2 separate regions of the Homo sapiens genome follow, and region 2 is linked to region 1. Evidence: fine-mapped expression QTL. A gene starts in region 1. The other region holds a variant in brackets. All regions are shown on one strand. Distances are from middle to middle.

Evidence for each region. PIP is the estimated chance that this variant, and not a neighbour inherited with it, causes the effect.
Region 2: its variant is the best candidate, but not a certain one, in a credible set for the expression of CFAP61 in prefrontal cortex (GTEx, PIP 0.89).

The regions. Positions count from the first base shown.
Region 1 is chr20:20,048,261-20,056,346 of GRCh38, reverse strand. CFAP61 (cilia and flagella associated protein 61) reads right to left here and starts at 3,815. Exons shown (of 27, transcript NM_015585.4): 1 at 3,756-3,815. It overlaps CRNKL1 (crooked neck pre-mRNA splicing factor 1), which reads left to right and starts at 3,881. Exons shown (of 14, transcript NM_001278628.2): 1 at 3,881-4,055; 2 at 5,725-5,877; 3 at 6,916-7,007; 4 at 7,846-8,004. The coding sequence starts at 4,005. RefSeq lists a silencer at 3,407-3,456 and enhancers at 3,547-3,846, 3,857-4,026.
Region 2 is chr20:20,091,026-20,108,020 of GRCh38, reverse strand. CFAP61 (cilia and flagella associated protein 61) reads right to left here. Exons shown (of 27, transcript NM_015585.4): 8 at 9,207-9,366. It overlaps LOC124904880 (a long non-coding RNA gene), which reads left to right and starts at 12,266. Exons shown (of 2, transcript XR_007067553.1): 1 at 12,266-12,434; 2 at 13,258-13,577. RefSeq lists an enhancer at 1,275-1,839. The variant T/C (reference allele first, on the strand shown) is at 9,165.

The DNA of each region.
Region 1 (8,086 bases):
GGAAAAACATTGAAAGGAATTATTTACGGATTCAGGGTCCTCTTATATTTAATCGGCCACGATGGCATGTGGTGAAGAGTTACTGGGGAAATACTGACAGCTGCTGCCTATGTTCTTAATAGAGTTCTCCAAACTGGAGCCCTGAAGGTCAGCAGTCTTGAGACATATTTTGAGACCAAAAAAGTTCTGTGGTTAAGTGTAGGAAATGCTCGCAATAGGCTTCCTGAAGGGCCACCAGGCCCATTAACATCTTTGAGAGGTTCCATAATAAAGCAACTTGTTTTCTTTGTATAACCCAGCCTTTCCGACACTCTTTGGGAAGAGAATCTCTAATGACGGCAACAGTGGAGAACCTAACGTTCCAGAAGGACACTTTGGGAAATGCTGTTGACAAAAACAGTAGGTCACAAAATGATTTCAATTTCTCTCTCATTGTCTCAATTTCTGTAAGTCTCTCTTCTCTCTTTCCCTCCCTTCTTTCCTTCATAGGGAAAGCCATTTTATTATATACTAGCCAGTGAGCTCAAAACAGGGAAAACAATGAAGGAGAAATTAATAATGTCTAGACTCCTATCGAAGCTAACCATAAATATTGTCATTCCTTGTTCTGGTTTTAAATTGAAAGCAAAATTGGAATGAGACATCTTGTTTGTGAAACATATCATAAACTAATGCTACAAGTATATAAAAATTCTGAATAAAATAAGGAAGTATAATTAATTAGATAACTGACTTTGGTAAAAAGAAAACAAGAAAAGAAGAAAGAAAGCGAGCGAGGGAAATTCTCCAACCAGGTGGCAATGATGTGAGCCGATCTGACACAGGTTTTGGGGATAGAATGGACCTCACTCCAAACAGAGAATTAAAAATTAAACCATGCATCTACCTGGGACTTTGGATGGGCCCCTCGGTAAGTGAGGGGGCTAGAAAAATTAAACTCACCAGCCCAAGAAAGTGACAAGCTTTCTCTACACAAAGCTCTAGGTAGAAAATAAAGCAAAAATACTGCTGAGAAGTCCAAATTCTAGACTAAAGTGGGTATGGCATTCTAGTCCACACAATCTGTGTATTATGGGAGTCACCAAGAACTTTAGATGATAGACTCTGAAACAGACTACAAACTAAGTATGTTTATAATAAAGAAATATAGAAAGAGAAACAAAAGTCATGAGAAGAGAACAGGTCATTATTTAAAAAAGAACAGAAACTTAAAAAATGAAATACGTGGTTATTAAAATTTAAACTAAGAGGATGGGTTAAAAACAGAAGAATAAAGAAAATAAACTGGAAGATACTTATGAACAAATTATCTAGAAAGAAGCACATAGAAACAGAAAATACAGAATTCAGTAAAGACACATGTAAGACAGAATGAAAAACATCTGTCTTATGGGAATTCCAAAAGGAATAAATGAAACATTTGAAAATAATGGCTAATTACTTTTAGCATGGATGAAAGACATGAACCTTCAGTTCAGAGCAAAAAATACAAATAAACTCCAAATATATAGTAAAACTACAAAACCCTAAAGACAAACAGAAAACTTTAAAGGAACCTGACAAAAGACAGACTGTCTATAAAAAATAATTAGACTGACAGAATATTTCTCATGAGCAACATTAGAAGCCAGTAGCACGGGGGTTAGCAAACTTCTGTAAAAGGCCAGAGAATAAATACATTAAGCTTTATGAGCCACATGTTGTCTACACAACTAGTCAACTCTGCCATTGTAGCACAGTAACAACCAGAGACAATATCGGCACAAATGAGCATGAATGTATTCCCACAAAATTTTACTTACATACACTGAAAGTTGACTTATGTATAATTTTCATGTGCCATGTAATTTTTAAAAAATGTTTAAAATGTAAACTACATATAAAGTTTAATGTAAAATGTGTGTGTGTATATGTGTATGTATGTGTGTGTGTATATATATATATATATATCCCTAGCTCATTCACAGTCCATACAAAATAGTCAATGGGCTGAATTTAGTCTACGGCCCATAGTTTTCTAACTACTAGAATAGTGTTTTAAAAATATAAAAGGAAAAAATAACCATTAACCTAGACTGATAAACCTAAACAATCACTTTAAAATGAAGATAAAATAAAGACAATTTCATACAAAGACTGAAAGAATTCAAAGAATCTTGTAGAAAGAACTAGGAGATGGTATATTCTGAGAAGAATAAAATCAGAAAGAAGTGGAATACAAGATTAAATGCTGGGAAATAAGAAGGTAAACATGAAGGTATATCTACAAAAGCATTGATGGCAAAAAGTAAGAAGGATAATACATTTTTCCTAAAAAAAAAAAAAAAAAAAAACAAACAAAAAAAACACACACAGAGATGAACTGAATTGCCAGACAACAGAAATGTAAGAGAGAAGGATGGTGATCAGAAGCAAAGTATTCTAGCATGTTTGTACTTTTGAGCAAAGGCAACAGATGATTAAACCAATGATTCATTTGGTAAATCAATTGTTTACAGTAACACATTTAAGGAAAATCACTTCAAAGAAACATCTTTTTAATATTTATTTATTTTGTTAGGTGGCTTTATGAAAGTGATATAAAATCTTCTCTATTTAAATTTTGAAAAGTGAGATAAAATATCTAAATAATATGGTTAATAAAGAGTTATGGCAAATACATTGATGTTGGTTATAACTGACTGCAGTTCTAGAAATCTGCATAAATCTTTTGTTGAAAGTAATATCTGCATTGGTAGACGTGATATTACTACATACATAAATATATATTTTCCCCAAACACCAAAAGAGCTTTGCAACTGTGGAAATTATCCTAACAAATGAGCTGCCAAGTCATGTCATTATACATTTGTCCAACCTCATAGAATGTACACCAAGAGTGAACCCTAATATAAACTATGAACTTTGGGTGATAATGATGTGTCAATGTAGGTTCAAGATTGTAACAAATGTACTGCTCTGGTGGAGGATATTTTTAAGAGTTGGAGGCTGTTAGAGGAGGGAAGAGGTACAATAATTGATAGCAGGAAGCTGTGGAGGGAGGAAATCTCTGTGTCTTCCACTTAATTTTGTTGTGAACCTAAAACTTCTCTAAAAATGTCTATTAAAAAAAATTCTCTTAACCTTTGCTTTTCAGTTTTTGAGGGCAGGTTAAGTATTATAACAGCTAACATCTACTGAGCATTTGTCTTTAATCCTAGTGAAACAGATGTTATTAGCCTTGTTTTATAGTTGAGGACATTGAGGCTAAGAAAATTTAACTAGAGTAATTAAGGCACACACAGAATTTAAACATGTTTCTTATCACAAGACTGAGTTGTTTTCCAGTTACTCTATTTATATTTTTTCCTAATATCTGGCTTCAAAGTACCTTCTGTTATTTTTAATTCCAAGCCTTAGAGTTAATTATTTGGGCACCTTAGAATTATTTGGGCACAACTGTCCCGAAACCAGAAACGAGGGGGCGTGGACCCAGAGACTACTAGAATGCAATGCTCGAGGCATTGCAGCCTAAAAGGGCGGCAGCTCGCCCCGTCGCATGCTGGGAATGGTAGTTTCCTCGCTCTCCCTTCTTCCCCCGCCCTCGAGCATCCAGATTGGAGCTCCGTTCTTACTCCCTTGCAGGGCGCCACGGCTCGACAGAGCCACTCGTCCTCGCCTGGTCATCCCAGTTCCGGAGGCTGACCTGGGGATGCGCCCTGGACGCCCTGCACCGCAGTCCTTGCGTCGCTGCTAGTCAGCACGGCGTTACCCACCTCATCCGCAGCTCCAGGACGCCGCACTCCACGCGCTGCCGCAAGGAGGACGCGCAGCCTGGTCACCATGGAAACGGTGCCGCCTCCGTCACGGCTCAAGCGAGAGGTCAAAGGTCAGTCCTGCAAGTTCCGCTTCCGGTTCCGAGATCCTGTTTGTTTTCTGAAAGCTTTGTGGTTTCGGTGAGCTCTCAGAGCCGATTTCTAGCGTCCGTGCCGGGGACAGGTGTCCAGAGGTCGACTGCTGCAGACATGGCGGCCTCCACCGCGGCCGGGAAGCAGCGGATTCCCAAAGTGGCCAAGGTAGGCGATCGCGAGGGGCCTTGTAGGAGGTGGCCTAGGAAAGGGGCATCCCTCAGCCCTGAGGGTGCCCGGGTTGGGAGAGAGTGTTCCCGCCGGGGAGAAGGCTCACCCTGAGAGATGGAGAGGAAGGGCAGCTGGTGGTGGGGCGCGGGCTCTTGTCATCGCGGAGCACGACCCGCGTTGGCGTGGCCTTCGTTCTGGGGTGGTTTTGCTGGGGAGTGGAGTGGGGTGGTTCGGTGAAGATTTACTGAGCCAGGCACTGCACTGGGCGCTGGGAAGCTACGCTCGTACGCTGGCCACAAGCAGTACTCAAAACACGAGTTTCTGTATAAAGACGACCTTGCTAGATGTTACCGAGAGGCAAAGTAGAATATGCCATGGGCGTGAATAAGGGGGTCGTATGAAGGGGTCCTGAAAGTAAATTTTGCTGAGGAAATGACCTTTAAGCTGAGACTTGAAGGCTGAATAGGAGTTAGCCCAGCTGACAGCGGAGGGCGAGAGTAGACGGTAGGAGTAGTATAGTATCATAAGTTAATTAAACAGTAGACTTACTATCTGGTATTTCCTTTGATAGCTAATACTTACCAAGTGCTTAATATGTGGCAGACTTTGAAGCCTTTACAGATACCCTCCCTCCAGTCTTTCTTGAGCCCGGATGACTCTCTTGAACTGGACCTTTACATAACTATTTGTCTGACTCGCAGGAGTAATGCATATAGAGCAAGTAACACTGTGTCTGGCACTTAGTGCTTATTAAATATGAGCTATCACCATTATCATCATTACTCCACATGTGGCATTAAGTAACATTTTTTATAATTCAGCTACATAAACTTTTATTGGGCATCACTGGTCCAATGGAAATATAATGCACACCACATATGAAATTTTAAATTTTCTCATATCTACATTAAAAAGTAAAAACAAAGCAAAAAAGTGAAATTAATTTTGATAATATATATTTTATTTGAGCTAATGTATCCAAAATATTATCATTTCAACATGTAATCGGTATAAAAAATGTAATGAGGTAGTTTATTCTTTTTTATACTTCATCTTCAAAACCAATGTGTATTTTACACTTACAGTCCACCTCAATTTGTACTCACCACATGTGACTCATAGCTACTGTGTTGGACAGCACAGCTCTAAGCTACGTTAGACTGTAAGCTTCTAAGACCTCAAGAAGCTTACAGTCTAATGATGAGAACTTACTGAAATTGCCTTTGACTTGAAGTGCCATGTAAAACCAAACCCAGTTATACACCGGGGCATTAAATAAGTTGAAGAATTCTGTAAATGCAGGTTGTAATGCTGTTAATAAGATGTGCTACACATTTTGATAAAACAAAACCTCTGGTCAGAATTTTACCTAGACGGCCTCAAAGTTTATTATTATACTCATCTAAAAGGGAAAACTTGCTATTATTTTTGCCACCTTTTTCTCTTGAGACTTTTACCTATGGCTTTGCAGTAGATACTATGAATAAGAGAGAAAACGGTATTTTTTTTTTCTTTTCAGTCTCATGGAGGAATGGGAACATGTCATACAAAAAGGGCATCTTGTGATAATACTAACAAAGTTCATATCCTAAAAAATGTATGTTTGTTTCTTAAGCCTTGTGTGAAGAGCAACTACTAAAAATAGAAATGTCTTCTTTCTTAAAAGGTGAAAAACAAAGCCCCGGCTGAGGTACAGATAACTGCTGAACAACTCTTAAGAGAGGCTAAAGAAAGAGAACTTGAGCTTCTTCCACCTCCACCTCAACAGAAGATCACAGATGAAGAAGAATTAAATGATTATAAACTAAGGAAAAGGAAGGTCAGTCAGTGTGGTATCTTTCAGTCCACTAATTGTTAAGACTGTATCGGTCAGTTTGAAAAGCTCCTCATTGGTTGGATTCTGTAGGGCAAGATGAGGTTAAGTGTTTCCAGACGCATGAATAATGTACTTCTGGTTACCAGATAACAGCATTTTTCTGAACTATATAAAATATGCCATGAGTTGTCTGGTTAAAGTGTAAAGAAATTGAATCTGCATAATTTTTGATGCTGAATCAAAGTGAGCGGAAGTTTAGCAGATGGAACAACTGACAACAAGAAGGAGGGTATGCTTAGTAAGGCTGCACTGTGTACTTCTGTCTATACCACCTTCTGTGTTAAGAATTGAGATCTGGCTGGGCACAGTGGCTCGCGCCTGTAATCCCAACACTTTGGGAGGCCGAGGCGGGCAGATCACCTGAGGTCAGGAGTTTGAGACCAGCCTAGCCAACATGGTGAAACCCCATCTCTACTAAAATACAAAAATTAGCCAGGCGTGGTGGCAGGTGCCTGTAATCCCAGCTATTCGGGAGGCTGAGACATGAGAATCACAGCAACTCGGGAGGCAGAGGCTGCAGTGAGCCGAGATCGTGCCACTGCACTCCAGCCTGGGCGACAGAGCAAGACTTTGTCTCAAAAAAAAAAAAAGAAAGAAAGAAAGAAAGGAAAAGGAATTGAGGTCTGCAAAAGGACCATGAGAAGACTTTGGGATCTGATTTGACCTCTTCACTCTAGAATGTGGGACTGTTTTAAAGCACTAATGCTGTTATATATGAAATTCTGAGAATTACCAGAGGACTTAAAGGTAATAGTCAAAAACATTTTTTATTAGGGACAAGCATAGACCATTTTAAAGTATCAGTTAGTTGACTGTAACCTTCTGTAGTGGGTTTCTTATTCCTCAAGGATTCCAGGATGTAATTTCTCTTAAATATGAACAAAATGAATAACCATTTTAGTACAAGACTTAAAATAGACCAAGGGTGCTGTCATTTTTAGTCATTTGTCTTTTGACTTGACCCTTTTTGCCTTCTTCCAGACTTTTGAAGATAATATAAGAAAAAACAGGACTGTGATTAGTAACTGGATAAAATACGCACAATGGGAAGAAAGCCTAAAGGAGATTCAAAGGTAAAATTACTGAGAGTGTAGTTTTGTATATAATGATTCATAGATTAACAGATACCAAAAAGAAAAGAAGAAAAAGTTAAAGCACAGGTAAAAGATTGTGCCTCGGGTAGAAATTTTCAACTTTGGTTCCATGGAACCCTAGGGTTCCCTTGAGGGCCTCAGGAGTACTGGGGTAGAATAGTCCTGGGGAGGGTGGCAGAAGAGGCTTTAGAGATAGATCTTGTCAGTTGTAGCTAAAGAAGCACAATTTCATTTGCTTTGTATATATTGAGATTTTTACAAATTTCAGCTAAACAATGGCCAAAAAAAATAAAACCAATGGCCAAAAAAAATAAAAATTGCAATCTGGCCCTTCCTGTGGTCTAGCTTTCTGCATTCTCCCCGCATACCTCCTTCCCCCACTGTGCCTGTGTATGTGCCACTCCCTGAATATATCATGTCTCCTTATCGTGAGGCTTGACTGTTCTCCTTGCCTGGAATGAGCACCCCCTCCTCACCAAACTTAGTTTCCTGGTAAATCGGAACGTTCCTCAAGTTCTCATTTCTACAATTACCTACTACTTAGCCTTTTCCACCAAACATTTTCATTTCTTCCTCTCTGTTTCCCGTGCAGATCTTGACTATAACATAAATCACATTGCATTATAATTGCATGCATGTCTTTTTATAAGACTTTGTAAGGTACTTGAGAGCATTATATCTTTTCATTTTTTTATGCCCAGAACTTGGCTCATGGTAGACACCTAATAAAACATCAGTGCATTCCAGATAGTTTGAAATAACTGCTACATGTGTTGAATGCTCTATTTTTGATGCCCTGCAAATCTTGCTTCTTAAGGGCTCGATCCATATACGAGCGTGCTTTAGATGTAGACTACCGAAATATTACACTCTGGCTGAAATACGCAGAAATGGAAATGAAGAATCGCCAAGTCAACCATGCTCGAAATATCTGGGACCGGGCCATAACAACGCTGCCTCGAGTTAATCAGTTCTGGTAAGTTTCTGATCTAACAAAACAGCCTTTTATAGACTAGCAAAGTTCCACATCTTCTGTATTTATTTTATTTACATGATGA
Region 2 (16,995 bases), 47 kb before region 1:
ATAATATTTTTATATAACTACTTTTGTGATTTGCTTTTCTCTTTATTTTAGAATATTTCATGTAGACTTAAATCAGTACTCAATAAAAAAGACAGGCTGGGTGTGGTTGCTCATCCCTGCAATTCCAGCACTTTGGGAGGCCAAGGCAGGAAGATTGCTTAAAGCCAGGAATTCAAGACCAGCCTGGCAACAAAACGAAACCCTGTCTCCAAAAAAATGTAAAAATTAGCAAGGTATGGTGGCACATACCTATAGTCCAGCTACTCAGGAAGCTGAAGTAGGAGGATCACTTGAGCCCAGAAAGAGTTCAAGGCTGCAGTGAGCCATACTTGCACCACTGTACCCCAGCCTGGGCAACAAAATGAGACCTTGTCTCTGAAAAAAAGAAAAAAAATTTTTTTAAGTATTTTTCCACAGAGTTGGATACATATATACACACATATATTATACATATACTCCTATATATATCTCCACTACTGTATGCTAATTTTTCATCTTCATATACTAAATTAAGCTTTTCTAGAATAATCTTATTTCCAAAATTGATTCAAAGGAAATAGAAAACCTGAATCTATTAACTACCTTGAGGAGAAATGGAAAAGTTGTCAAAGATGCTTCCAAGATGCCTCTACCAGGTCTTCTACTGAGTGAGCCTATCTGTCCATGGAGGTCTGAAAATACCGAAAGTCCAAGCAAAATGCAGTGGAGAGAAGGCCTCTGACCCAGTAGTCAAATAACTGGCTTCATGTTGAGCTTCAGAATTAATAAATTTTCCTTTGTTTGTTGCCATGTGCAAAAACTGTGCTTTTCAGTAATTGCTTCCTTAGCCGCTTGGCTCAGATTAAATTTGGTCCATGATATTTTAAGAATCATCAAAAACTCTTTGTAAACAGAACTCACAGTGACCTCAGTGCAATGGGTGTGACCCACTGATGGCCAATTTAATCAAGGGGGAATTCAAAGTATTCAGTGCAAGCAATTGATTTTCAAGAGAAAAGTCAGCAGGATCAAACACCCAGTTGGGATGAAAATCCCTTGAATCACCCCTATCACCGTGTTTTCTAGCAACTAACTGCTGACTCCATATAGCGTAATAGCCAAATTACTATAATTATCCTGCAACACAAGTGGCATATCAACATTATTTTAAACACGGATTTTTTTTGCATAATCTTTCGTTATTATCTTTCAGCCTTCCATCTGAAAATGGAAAACAACAACAAACTGTGATCTACCCCAACAGGAAAAAGGTCACCAGAGAGAACAAATAAAAGGGTTATTTACATGTGAATGTACTGAGATGTGTTTTACAGTCAAATACACTCTTGAACTTCATTAAATGCCTTCTCCCCTGCTTCATAAATATGGGCAAAAGAGACATCCCCTACTGAGAAAATAATCCCAGCACATAATGATCATAACGAATATAAATAAAGCCACTTTTCTTCTGAAGACCTCCAGGCCCCATACAAAAATGCGCTTGTATTTCCACCATTGTGAAATGAATCTGACTGTTGGAGAACAAGGCTGTGATATCACAGGTCGCTCCCAGGGCTGAAGAGGAAAGGAGGAATGCAGATCTCAGTCATGTTGCTGTCTGCAAAATAATAGATTCTTAAGTGGTTGCCATCCTTTGATGCTATGGTTGTTTTTGAAGACATTAGAAAAGGCTTAGAAATCAGCTTTGGAATTAAGATGGAGAATTGACAACAGGTTTTATGAAATAACCAAAAGGCTCACCAAGATGGCTTTGGGGTCATGTCCCTGACAACAAGTTCTGGGCTTCAGGTCTGGATTACAGTCTTCCTGGTATCCTACCAGTCCAGGGGCTCTGCCCTGAAAGCCCTGAAAGAGTCTAAACTCTCAACATTGGAGATGCCTGGGTATAGGTCTGGTATGATTTATTTGTTTTATCAACATCTCTTGCAAAGCTTTAGAATTAACAAAGTAGATTCTAGAAAATCAAATTTTATATATATATATATATATATATATATATATATATATATATATATATATAGGCAAGAGTAGCTAAAGCTTTCGAAGATGTTGCCTTCATATGCTAAAGACATTCAGTGGCTTAAAAAAATGAAATTCATCATGCCTGTAATCCCAGCACTTTGGGAGGCTGAGGTGGGCGGATCACAAGGTCAGGAGATCGAGACCATCCTGGCTAACACAGTGAAACCCCATCTCTACTAAAAAAAAAAAACTCAAAAAAATTAGCCGGGCATGGTGGCAGGCGCCTGTAGTCCCAGCTACTCGGGAGGCTGAGGCAGGAGAATGGTGTGAACCTGGGAGGCGGAGCTTTCAGTGAGCCGAGATTGCACCACTGCACTCCAGCCTGGGCGACAGAGCGAGACTCCGTCTCAAAACAATAAAAATAAATAAATAAATAATTCAAATTTTAACAAGTATAAGTTAGTATATTAGGGCTATGTATGAACATTAAGTAAAGCCGACTTTGCTGCCACTGTCTGCATTACTATCAGAGCCTTGAGTACAGGCATCAAAGAACCACACCACAGGATCTAGGAGAAGGAAAGAAAAGGGGAGGAGGGAGAACTGAGATGCTCAAAGCCCAGATCACAATGAGAAAATGGCAAATTTGGTGGCAACTGCTACCAAGTGAGTAATATTGCTGTGTGGCCACTGAGTGAGAGCTATAATGGGCCCCAGAACTCACCCTAGCCTCCTGGGAAGTGGAGGTGACCAGGGCACAGAAGCCTGTAAGAACAGAACTCCTCTCCTAGGGGGATCTGAAACCCATGCCAGGAACAATGAGAAGCCCATTGGTGGGACACAGGGACTTTCCTCGGGCACAGAAGGTTGGGTGGGTGCGGCTTACATCCAGCCAGGGGAAGAACATGGGCTTATGAGAGGATGTAGACATCCAAACATTCCCCACCCTGAACACATACCGCCCCCCTATTAGGGACCAGAGGAAGGCAGTACGATACCATAGAGCCTCTCCTGGGCTGTAGTGTGCCTCCTCCCACCCCCAAAACTCGTACACTGAAGGCTTAACCCCTAGTACCTCAGAATGGGACTGTATTTGCAGACAGTCTTTAAAGAGGTAACTGAGTTAAAGTTACAGGTGAGCCCTAATGCATTGTGACTGGTGTCCTTATAAAAAGAAAAACCAAAAACACTGATGGGCACAGAGGGAAGACCCTGTGAAGACATGGGGAGAAGATGGCCGTCTACAAGTCAAGGAGGGAGGCCTCAAAAGAAACTGACCCCTCCAACATCTTGACTTCTGGCCTCACAAATGTGAGAAAATCAATTTCTGTTTTTTAAGCCACCCAGTCTGTGGCACTTTGTTATGGCAGCCCTGGCAGACTAAGTCCTGGTGGGTCACTGGTTAACTACAGAATGAACTGACTGTTAAAAACAAGGTTCCGAGATCTGTAATGTAAAGACGGCAGCAGAAATCCTAACACACCCTGTAGATACGTGCTCCAGTCCTGTTTGGAATCCATGTTAAAAGAAGAATAAAGTAAAATAGAAGGGAATCCAGGAATATAAAATGGAACCTTAGGAAGAGAGGCGAAAAGACCTGGGATGATTTAATACACAATCAATAAGACTTAATGTAGCCATTGTTTTTTAGCTCCGACACAGGGAGAGTGGGTCTAGGTGTTTCCTAACCCAAGAGATGAGGGAATCTGAGATAAGAAGCAAATGTGAGTTCAATAAAACAAGACATAAAATTGAAATAAGACATATAAAGACATTTCCTGACAGCAGGAGTAATTTAAAAAAAAAAAGTTAAAGGCAATATTGCGATGTTTTACGTGGAGACATTACAAAAATTCTATTTTGAAGGGTCTTTTATATGTATAGTGAGCAACAGTTTTCCTGGATGACTTGGTGACAAGGGGCTACACTAGTTATTCTTTTGAATGCCCATAACTCTATTATGTAAAGTGAAATCTCTCCCTGCCAAGGAGCACATCAAGTTCTGCAGAGACTTTGTAAGGTGGGCCCTGGGTATATAATGAGATTTACAAATCGGAACCTTGCAGGAGTCTTTTAAAACAGAGATTCATGCTGCCCAGATCTCAACGGCCTACATGAGGAACAAAAGTTTTGTTTTTTGCTTGTTTTTATTTTTTTATTTTAACTATTAAATGCGGCAATGCCAGTACAGCTGTGGAAATGCAGGTTGTGCCCTATTTTGCCTTATGCATTATCAAGAAAATTGCCAGCTCAAGCTTGATTCCAAAATATTTATTGGGTGATGCAGCTAACAAAAGACACAGCTTGATTTGCAAACACCAGGCAGGGCCAGTGCTGCGGCCAACTGGAAAAAATATTGTTTTGAACCATTTTATTGTCACTGAAGGAAAATATTCATAAAGTGCCAGGCATATGGAACATCTTGATATGTATTCAATAAGTTTTTTTTAGCATTTAAGGGGATCTTACATCTCATTCAGTATAATCTTCCACACAAGCAGAAAGCCCTTTGTAAGTGTGTATGACTGTTTCTTTATGAATTCTTCCAATATTCTGGGAACTTGCTACTTCCACACTAGGTCCTCCATTAAATAAAAAAAATACACTTCTACTAGTTTTTCCTTATGCTTGGACAAAATTTACATCCTTAGAACCTATTCCCATTGGTCCCAGTTTACTCCCAATGTTTAGTACATAAAAACCAAAGTTTACAAGTATGTAATAGGTTATACATGCAAAATGGGTAGCTATGAAAACATACACAAATTATTCAGGTAAAACACAAATTGATTGTACACAGTTAAACATTTTAGATTCAGGGAAACTTTTTTTTTAAGGTAGAACCTAGCATTTTATTTAGATCTTCATTAAACTGTTGGAATTGAGAACATACTTAATAAACCTCCAAAAATAGATCCTGAAAAGCACTTTCTGCTCAGGACAAGCAGTCATGGAATAAGCACATAAACAAGCTGGCTTCTCTGCACCACACCAGCCAAGTCAGCTTTCTCCATGGTCAGCCACACCAGCTCTGCCCTCCTTTCTGTTAACACCAGCCAGACCTCCAGGGAAACTTTTGATAAGGCTGAGATGATGAAGGACAGTAAGCTAATTACCATGTGTATTAGGAGCTAGAAAAAGGAGGGCCTCTGGATTCATTTAAGAATGCTGAGTCTTGACATTATTCTGCTTGAAAGGGTTGAGGTTGGTGTGAAATTGCAAGTTTTCACAGCTGGCAGGGAAAGATCAGATCTTGAGAGAAGAGCTTGAGAATAAGCAGTTTATTTTGGAGGTGGTTCCAGGATGTACCAGTAGGAGAGTGAGGAAAGAGACAGGGAAGGAAAGGCAACTAATAAAATGTGTGTTGTCCATGGACACATAAAGGGGAACAACACACACTGGGGCCTTTTGAGGGTGGAGGGTGGGAGGAGGGAGAGGATCAGGAAAAGTAACTAATGGGTACTAGGCTTAATACCTGGGTGATGCCATAATCTGTACAACAAACCCACATGACACAAGTTTACCTATGTAACAAACCTTCTCATGTACCCCTGAACTTAAAAGTTAAAAAACAACAACACATGTGTTATCACCCAGATTACTATTATGGACAACTGAAACTTAATCCCTTGGGGGAACTCTGGGAAACCAGCCAATACTCACATATCTGAGTCCTCCCACCTGAGGAGTGAGGGAGCTGGGGTATTTATACTCTCACCCAAGTCAGCTGTGTATAAATAAATGCTTTCACAGCTGGTAGGAAAAGACCTAACTAGTAGTGTCTTGGTCTCACTTGCCTCAGAGGCAAATCTTAAGTTAAAGATTCAGTTACAACCATTTATTTGGGAGTCAATGGAGAAAGCACCAGCAGGGAAGCTGGGATGTGACATAGGGAAACAGAGTCTATTCCTTGAGTGATAATTTCCTGACACTTCCAGCCTGACCCCTGCATAGGTCAGAGTGGCCTTTCACAGTTTTAAAAAAGCCTGCAGACACAGAGGTGAAGATTCCAGCAGATAGGAGTTGTTTGGAGCACACACATACAAAATAAAAGTCGGAGGGATATGGGCAGGTCACTGATCACCCACTGAAGTGATCATTCATTAAATAACTTATTAAAGTGAAAAAACTGGCCGGGCATGGTGGCTTACTCCTGTAATCCCAGCACTTTGGGAAGCCGAGGTGGGCGGATCACCTGAGGCCCGGAGTTCAAGACCAGCCTGGCCAACATGATGAACTCTGTCTCTACTAAAAATACAAAAAAAATTAGCTGGGTGTGGTGGCACACACATGTAATCTCAGCTACTGGGGAGGCTGAGGCAGGAGACTCACCTGAACCCGGGAGGCAGAGGTTGCAATGAGCTGAGATTGCACCACTGTACTCCAACCTGGGTGACAGAGGGGGGCCTTCATCTCAAAAAAATAACAATAATAAAAATAAAAAATAAAAATAAAGTGAAAAAACTCATCATGTATCTTGTGTAGCAGACCCGTCATTGGAGTTTTCTGTCAAAACCATCCAAGATAAGACGTTACCTTGCCAAGACTATCATCATGCACGAAAGCAGAGAGAGGCTGGGTCTGCCTTCTGGGTCAGCCACTGATGAGCTTTAAAAGCTTGGATGAGCTTTAGCAAGTAAAAAATGGAGAGAACCTCACCTTCCCTAGCTCTCCTACACCAAGTTATAGGATAACATGAGATTACATATATAAAAATCCTTTGAAATGGAAAAAAGCACTAAACAAAATACAAGATATGAGACACAGTGATGTGTGCTCATTTGAAACAAGAATTTTAGTTCATATTTTAGAGAAATTATATTTCCTTTAACTTGAGACTTTCATCAGGAAAGGAAAGTAACAGATCACAGTACATTTAGAATTTTCTCTGGAGCCTCATTCTTTGTTGTTGTTGATAGGAAGATGGCAGCAAAATGTGCTGATGACTCTTTTCTTAGATATAATGAGCTGTTGATGATTTGTGACTCAATCCCTGGAAGTTATGTGGAAGTCTACAATGCCAGCTCCCTGGTGAAAATTTCATAAGGAATCATCTTTGTGTCAATGAACATAAAGCTGACTTTCAAAAATAAACAAGGCACAGAAGATAAGTTTTCCTATTTCTTTTACTTACCATCTGTCCTAGATTGACTTATTTTAGGTAAAAATATTGAAGGAGGTAAACAGAAGTAGGACTTCTTTTAGTGCCCATATCTCTGTGGGCTCTTGCTAGAGATATACTAGCTTACGTATGTTTTTAAGTCCAGGGTTCAGTTTAAATTTTGAATTTCACTGCCCCATAAAGTTTCTAAGGAATTTTCCATTCATTCTATGTAGGAAACAGTAGCATCAGAGCCACTCAGAAACACACTGGAAGGGACTACATCTTTTCAACTTGTTCTTCATTACAACAGCCACAGGGGAAAAAATATTTTTAAATGTTCAGGACTTACTTTGTGTTTGGCGCTGAGCTAAGCACAACACATAGATTCTAACATTTAATTGTCCCCTCAATTCTTTGGGTTAGATACTATTTTTATCTCCATTTTACATGTGAGAATATTCAGCCATAAAAAGGCTATTTAGGGCCAAGTGCAGTGGCTCACACCTGTAATCCCAGCACTTTGGGAGGCTGAGGCAGGTAAATCACCTGAGGTCAGGAGTTCAAGACCAGCCTGGCCAACATGGTGAAACCCTGTGTCTACTAAAAATACAAAAATTAGCTGGGCGTGGTGGCGCACACCTGTAATCCCAGCTACTCCAGAGGCTGAGACAGGAGAATCACTTGAACCCTGGAGGCAGAGGTTGCAGTGAGCCAAGATCACACCATTGCACTCCAGCCTGGGTGACAAGAGTTAAATTCCATCTCAAAAAAAAAAAAAGGCCATTTAGTGCTGCTTTCAAAGAAGAATTTAAGCATTGGAAAATAACAATGACAACTTATGGTTCCAGACTGTCTCACACTGATAAGTTCCCTCAGAACTCTCCTATGGTAGAGTTCTTCTCTGGGAAGCATGGCAAGCAAGGCTTCACTATTAAACAATAAGGACCCCAAATCTCTTTTGGGGAGGGTGTTGTTATCATCAGCACAAAAGGGAAACTCCTCTATCTGTGGCTTTGCAGGTTCTCTGTGATAAGTGTGTATGTTCAGATGAGGTCTAGACACTGTGCACGGGGTTTATGCATTCAGGGGATAAGCTTAGCCAAGTCACTGCCTTCTGTTGTCTAGATTGGCAAGTCCTTTGCCACCAGCCAAGTGCTCCTTTCCCCATTTCTGAACAATCTTGGTGTAATCTTTCAGACAGGAGAAAGCATAGCAATTTGAAATACCCTGATTTTACCCTAGGAAGATTCAAGTTGGTGGAAGGCCGACACAAAGAAAAAATAATTGCTAACGGTGATGATCAACATTTATTGAGTGTTGACTGTGCAAAGCACTCTACATGGCTTATCTCAGTGAAACTTCACAACCCCCCCCCCGTGTGGGAGGTATTACTATTATGCCCATTTTACAAATGAAGAAATCCAGCTTTGGAGAAGTGAATTGATGTACCCATGGTAACTTGCCTGTCTGCATCTGTCTTCTGTAAGAACCCAAATATGTAACCGCAAAGATACCCATGGATACAGTAAGACCTCACTAAATTAAAACATCAAAGTTTGAGGTTACCTAATTGAACGTGGTGAAAATCTTGATACAGACAATATTTTAAAATTGATGGTATTATTTCATATAACTAGAAGTAACTTAAGCAAGTTAAAAATGACTACTTGCAACAGACCTATACTACATAATGATTTGTCAAAGACAAAAACAGAAGCACTGAAAGTTGGGATTAAAACTTAAAAGCATAAAAAATTTCCTGAGTTCTTGATTTGAAAAATTCACTTGTTGTATTTGGTTGTGTGTGTGTGTGTGTGTGTGTGTGTGAAACCTGAAACACCAGTAATTATTTCATCATAACTTACATGTACTCTAGCAATGAACATTCAAGAAGTGAGCATCCTGAATGTGGGAGCCCTAAGGCCCCAAGTCCACTATGTCTAACTCCACCCCTGCACTGTGACTATCTGTGCTTGTAGGTATTTCACAAGGATGTGACCAACCATGGGAACTACTCCTTAAGGGGAACTGGGGAAGGAAATATAAAGCATCCTATCTAGTTCCATCACTTAGCGAAGAGCGCAATGTGTATAAAGCA[T/C]AGATTTAATTTCCCAGTGTGTCCCTGTGATAGCCACTGTACCTTGACTTCTTCGGACACTTAGGTCTTGTGGTGATTCCAGAACGTCATCAGGATGTGGGAAACAGAGTCCGTGGAAAGGGCCCAAGTCAAAGCACTCATGCAGCAGTTGCATGTTCACTCTTGAGCACACACTCATGAACCCAACAGCTGTGCCTTCCACCTGAAATATCCAAAACACCTCATTATTCTTTTTTTTTTTTTTTTTTTGAGACAAAGTCTCGCTCTGTCACCCAGGCTGGAGTGCAGTGGTGTATCTTGGCTCACCGCAACCTCCGCCTCCTCAGTTCAAGCAATTCTTCTCCCCAGCCTCCCGCAGAGCTGGGACTGCAGGCGCCCGCCACCACACCCAGCTAATTTTTGCATTTTTAGTAGAGACGGAGTTTCACCATGTTGGCCAGGCTGGTCTTGAACTCCTGACCTCAAGTGATCCACCCACCTCGGCCTCCCAAAGTGCTGGGATTACAGGCATGAGCCACCACACCCAGTCCAAAACACTTCATTACTTTATCAGAGGTCAAATGATTCTCATCAGGAAACCTCCAGAGCCCTCAGAATGTGGTCGGCTGGTGGTTTGGCAGTCACCTTGAGATTTAAGGGAGGAATAAGTGTCTTCCTTCAGTACATAAAACATGCTCAAAAAATGTCCCAATAAGTGACCACTGGGGACACACCTAGTGGTGCATAAGTAACAGGGAAATTGCCAGAGTTCTTGACCCTTCAACCATTGGAACACTTGCCCTCTGCTCAGACCATGCTCCTGCCTGCTCCATATCCTCTGCCATTTGGTGTCTTGTGTTTGTACCCCACCATAAGCCTGGCGCTCCTGTCTACTTTCTTTCCCTCTGCCATGCACACTTCTCAGGAATACAGGTCATTGTTCCAGTGCCCATCTGATCAGCCCCCAGTACAGAGAAAGTTCACGGTCCCTAGCTCCTTATCAGGTAGAAACTCTTCAATTTGTCTTGAAGTCACTTATTTATTAACTGGATAGTCTGATAGGGAGGAGATATGAGGGAAGGAAGTTTGGTGGAAAATGTTCCAGTGAAGTAAACTTGAGTCAGGCTAGGCTGGTTCACCAGGTGGGTCTGATCTGCAAATGTTGAACTTCCCATCACCCTGAAATGCCTGGTTCTGAAGCTCTTGCAGTCGTCCCCATGATTTTCAGTCTTTGATGAGTAATACATAGGCGAGAAGATGAGTAACTAGCTGATCTGAACCTTGGTTGGGTACCAGGTACCTGATTGGTACCAAAACATTAGAAATTAACAACAGACTTTAATTCTATCATATTCCACATGGAGAGACGGCTGTGACTGAAACTCCTTAATATATCCCTTAAGTAATTCTGTATTTCATTGTTTTCTGCAAGGAAAGTATTTAAAATTTAAAAAGAGAGAGAAAATACATAGTCCTTTAAATTTCACATAAAATAATTATTAGTAGATTTTAAGCAAATTCTGGTTGACTGATTAGACTCTGATAGCTCTTATTAGAAACCTGCATTTACTGGGTCCTATCTCTCAAGTGTTCAGACTTTTAGATAACCATTGCATTCAGAAAGTAGCAGAACTCAATAATCACAGGCATTCTCTATTCCCAAGAACGCAGCATCTTTCCATAAATGCCCAGTCAGAGAAAATGCTTTAATCTCCTAAAACAGAGAATCGGGCTACAATAATACTCAGTTTTTTAAATGACACCAAAAAAAAAAAAAAAAATAGGTATTAAACTACTATTTGTTCTCGAATATGTCTCCCAGTTAAAAATCATTTGTTCTCAAACGTGTTTGCAAAATAAAAGTGAGACCTCCTCTATTTTCTTCTCAATACTGAAATATGAGGGGAATTTTTAAAAATTAATTTTTTCATGTATATTCCTTTCTTTACAGGCCCCCTAAAATGATACTTGCTGAAAAAGCCTGGATTTACACAGCTGTTTTATAAAGCCATTGACACTTTAATAAAAGTCCAAAATAAACATTTTAATTTTTTTCCCAAATAACAAGTGATTGTTTGTCTTGTTTGCACTCGTGAACAAAGGCTGCATAGCCGCAGTTGTCTAGCTTCTCTGTAATTTCAGGCCCAAGACTCAGCAGACGCTGATTAACCAATCCATCTACCATATGTGCAGAAAGAGACGGCCAGCCTGACTCTCGGCAGGGAAAATTGGCATCCATCTTGGTTCACATGGAGATGTCCTTCTAATCTACAGCCGCGCTGGCGCAACAAAACTTCGATGGCCTGAAATACCTTTTGCTGGCTTCACAGCGAGCTGCATGTGTATGATAAGAATGTATTATTTATAAGACCGCTGTTAGTAATGAGCTATTACACTAATGGCTCATTGTGTTTGGAATTTGATTTCAAATGGCATGGATCACACATTCTGATGAAAATGAGAAAAACATGTTTTGCCATTAGGAACAAAGATTTAACGTTCTCCAATTCTACAACCTGTTATATTCCCATCATTCATCCAGGGTTGTAACAATTTACAAAAGTTCACAATTACAGACTACAACAGAGCAAGGACATATTGTGGAAGTGTCTGCTTTTTCCTTTGAGTTTCTTTCAAATAACCGATTTGAGAAACACTATTCTTAAATATGAATTTGCAGGAGTATCCAAATGTATTCTTGTGTATGCACTGAAAAAAAAATGGATTTAATGGACTTTTTAACTTGTACAACAGAAAGGCATTGATTGCTGGCTGTTATCTATCTTCCTGGTGACAGAAGTACTTTTCACCACAAGTGTCTTCAATTATCTTATACTGGAGAACAAAACTGAAGGTTTTGTTGTTCTTGCTTGTCCTGTAAATATCTACATCATGACACATAAGGTTTAGATTGCTAGAAAACTATGTGTACTGTGGCCTTGTCTTCCCAAACAGGTCCATTTACAGAAACGTGTGTATTTTCTCATTTATGCTTCCATCCAAAAAGCCCTACAGCCACCCATCCCTTTTGGGTGACAATATTCCACTGTGAGGGTTTTGCCCTCATTGTGACCACTGCTGGCTCTGATCCTCTCCTCCTGATGCCAAGCGCATGGCTGACCTGGCAGGCTTTCCCTGCCTGCAGGTCAGTGGTGCCTACTCGGACCACTGCTGCCCACACCCTGGATGATGCCAAAGCAGACGCTCTGCCCATCTGTCACTAGGAGCCGCCGCTGGCCTCCAACTACCCTTCCCTAAAACCTCAGCTTGGAGTAAACACCAGATGTCAAGGTAAGCCAGGGTACAGTTATGACAAGGAACTTGTATGAAGTGATGGCCCCAAACTCCTCCAAACTAGCTATCAAGCCAAAGAAAGTCCTTGTAACTAAAAACCCTTTCAGTAGTAAGGGTTTCCCACAGGGCACAGCCTTGCCCTCAGGCATGCTGCATGCCTGGCCTGGAACTGCCATGGCTGTTCAGAAAGACAAACTTGATGGACTTCTTTCTGTTTCCTCTGGTTGACAGTGGTTGCCTTAAAGTAACGTGTGCCTGTAAATGCCTAATCAGCATTTGCGGGGGAAAAGCCCAGATCTGTAGCATTTGCCGATTTCTGAGGTGTAAGCGCTGTCATCATGGTCAATGTCAAGTGAACAGTGTGATCTCACTAAACATGTAGTTGGGAGGGAATGCGCAGTAGCTAGCCATTATTTCTTATATCTACTGTATAGAGACCCAGACATTTAAAAAAAAACCCTCAAGAACATGGAGAATAGTAAAAAAAAATGGAAGGTGATGAATTTCAAGTATTTATTAACTTTGTTTTAATATAATTTATTACACTGTAGGTTTCTATAATTTAATTTTTAATAATAGCTGTGTTTAACAAGCAGTTTGCAGAGTTCCTGAGGATTTAACAATCAGCCCTTGAGAGCCAGAGCAAGCTGGCTCCAGCACACCATTGCCTAAAAGCCCCCTAGGGAGGCAGGAAAAAGGGTAGCAACAGCATTGATCTTGAACCCCAAAAGGCTTCAGACATCAGACATGGCTCACTTCAGATTAGACGTCCCCTCCCAGATCCCGGCTCACAGTCTTGTTTCTGCCCTTCCATTTTAAGATCGAGGTCTGTGGTCTCCCCTCCACAGAACACAAAGCCTCTGATGCTTGAGGCAGCACGGCCTCTGGAAGGAGATGGGGCTGGATGCCCTCTGCCTCTTTCGAGACACCAAAGGATTCTTGCAGGGTTGGAACTGCAGTTTTCAGCCTACAGCTTTGCTCTGATGTTTACACACACTGAAAGTGTGAAACATACGGCAAGAGAGAGAAAGAACGTGGGGGAAGAGGTCACTGCAGCTTCTCTACAAAGCACTGACTCAAGTGATTCAGAGTAAAACTAGTACCTTGGAACCAAATAATTAAAAGCCTTCCAAAAACAAAGACCCTGATTAAACCTGATAAGTAAAGTTTGGTCATGAAAATCCTTATTGGGGTCTGTATGAATCATTTCACTTCTCAGGAGTTTCTGTCTAGTTGTGTAAAGACAAGCTTTCCAAATGGTACTGCTGGGCCCAAATGCTTCCAACCCTCCCTTCTATGGCTAGCCTGGTAGCCTGGGGCTAATGGCTAAACAAGAATACGTGAAAGCGGGTCTTTGAGAAACCATGCCAAAACCTAAATATAAGAAAATAAAATAAACATTTAAAAAATAAATAAAAATCCTTTCAATGTAGTACTTCAGAATCTAATTTCCAGGGGCCAATTGTCACCTTCAGAAACTAATACCCACATCTCTATAAAGTCATGTCATTCTCACCAGGTATGTTTTACCCTCATGTAGATGAGTGTTTCACCACCTGGACTGCACCTTGGAATCATCTGGGGAGATCTTTAAAAATCCAGATTGAGGTCAGGCATGGTGGCTCATGCCTGTAACCGTAGCACTTTGGGAGGCTGAGGCAGGAGGACTGCAGTTTAAGAAAAGCCTGGGCAACATAGTGAGTGTCCAAAATTAAAAATAAATATATGGATTGTGTCTCACCCCCAAAAGATTGACTTAATTGGCCTGAGTGTACCCCTGCAACAGGATTTTTAAAAATGGATATAATTGATATAATTCACCTACCATAAAAACAACCCTTCAAGAAGTACACAATTCATGCCTGGTGCAGTGGCTCACACCTGTAATTCCAACACTTTGGGAGGCAGATCACTTGAGGCCAAGAGTTTGAGACCAGCCTGGTCAACATGGCAAAACCCCATCTCTACTAAAAATACAAAAATTAGCCTGGTGTGGTGGCACATGCATGTAATCCCAGCTACTTGGGAGGCTGAGGCAGGAGAATCACTTGAACCCGGGAGGTGGAGGTTGCAGTCAGCCAAGATCACATCACTGCACTCCAGCCTGGGCAACAGAGCAAGACTCTGTCTCAAAAAAAAAAAAAAAAAAGAAATACACAATTCAATGGTTTTTAATATATTCACAAAATTGTACACCCATCACCACTGTCTAATCCCAGAACATTTTCATCCCCCCACCAACCAACGACTATGCCCAATATTAGTCACTTCTCCTTCCCCTTTCCCTCCAGTCACTAATCTACCTTCTGTCTCTACAGAAGTGTCTATTCTAGGCTTTCATCTAAATGCCATCATACAATACGTGGTCTTTATGACTGACTTCTTTTCTTTAGCATCATGTTTTCAAGGTTCATACACGCTGTAGCATGTATCAGTGCTTCGTTCTCTTTTATTTCCTGGTACTATTCCCTTGTGTGGATATACCACATCTTGTTTATCTATTCATCAGTAGATAGACATTTGGGCTGTCTCCACTTTTTGGCTATTATGAATAATGCTGCTATGAACATTTGCGTACACATCTCTGTGTGGACATGTGTTTTCAATTCTGTGTATGGAATTGCTGGGTCAAATGTTTAACTTTTGGAGAAAATACCAGACTTTTTCCAAAATGGCCACAGCATTTTATATTCCTACCAGCAATGGATGAGGCTTCCAATTTCTCCACATCCTTGCCAACATCTGCTATTGTCCTGCTTTTTTATTATAACCCTCCTAGCAGAGGTAAAGTGGTATCTTAGTGTGGTTTTGATTTGCCTTTCCTTAATGACTAATGATGTTGAATGTCTTTTCATGTGCTTATTGGCCAGTTGTATCTTTTATTTATTCATTTTTTTTAAAAGTGTCTATTCGAATCATTTGCCCACATTTTATGTGGATTATTTTTCTATTGTTGTGAGAGTTCTTTGTATATATTCTGGATCCAAGTCATTGGCATGGTATGGATAGTTAAAAGCCTCCCAGGTGATCTGCATATATGCCAAGTTTGAGAACCACTGATGTAGAACAAAGCCTCAAACTGCTCATGTCATCCAAGTAAGAGAACTTTTCATTCCAAGTTTCAAGAAAAGTAATATTCTTTAAACAGCTCTTACAGTTTTAACAAATAATGAGAAATGAGTAGATGAAGAATCATGAATTAGAGGGTGTGGGCTGCCTTTTGGGCCCAATAGGCTGGGCCTTCTGATTTGTTTAGAAAAGCTAGAAATTCCAATTTTTACATAGACTTTCATAATTTTTACAATAGCTGCTAATTCAAAAATATTTAATCATATATAACTTGAATCAAATCATGAGAAAACATTGTACAAATCCAAATGGAGACATTCTACAAAATAACTGACCTGTACTATTCAAAACTGTAATTGTCATGGAAGATAAAGACGGATCGGAGAATTGTTCCAGATTTAAAAAGGCTGAAGAAACAGAGCACCTGAATGCAATGAATGGCCTGGAATTACCTCTGCCATAAAGGACATTCCTGGGACTGTCAGAAAAATCTGAATGAAGTCTGTAGATTAGATAAAAGAATTGCAGGAACTAGCTGGGCACGGTGGCTCACGCCTGTAATCCCAGCACTTTGGGAGGCCAAGGCGGGCGGATCACCTGAGGTCAGGAGTTCACCTCAGGTCAGCCTGGCCAACATGGTGAAACCCCGTCTCTACTAAAAATACAAAAGTTAGCTGGGCGTGGTGGCGCACACCTGTAATCCCAGCTACTAGGGAGGCTGAGGCAGGAGAATTGCTTGAACCCGAGAGGCGGAGGTTGCAGTGAGCCGAGATCATGACAGTGCACTCCAGTCTGGGTGACAGAGCAAGGCTCCATCTCAAAAAATAATAATAATAATAATAATTACAGGAATCATAATTACTTGGCTTTGATCATTGTATTGCAGTTATCTAAGAGAGTGTCCTTGTTTTTAGGAAATATACATTGAAATACTTACAGGTAAAGGGGCATTATGTATGCAACTTACTCTCAAATGGTTCAGAATATACATGAGAGAGAGAGAGAGAGCCAGCAAGAGAGAAAAAGAGAGAGAGAGAGGGAATTAGAAAGGTTGAACAAGAGAATGATAAAACAAATGGGGTTGGATGTTAACATTTGGGGAATCTGGGTAGTTATAAACTTTCTTTAAGTGTGAAACTATGTCAAAACAAAAAGTTAAAAAAAATACCTTTCCAACTCAAACAAAATCCATCTGCCAGCAGAACGCTGGTTTGTGACTTCTGAAGTCTGAGATTTGGGGATCCTCAGAAATCCCCCTACGCACCCCTGGGGGGTCTTTTCCATTCCCTCTCACTCTAGGGACAAGGCAAGAATCTACAGCATCGTGGGCATCTGGAAGGACCTCGCAAAAGACAACCTAAAGCCAGTAACCCAGGGGAGGAAGCTGGCCTGGTGCACCACCTGGAAGGGCAGTGGGAGGGCCGGGGTGGCCAGGGAGACAATGGCAGCTCCAGGGGTGCCCAGCAACGCAAGAGCAACACCACTCACA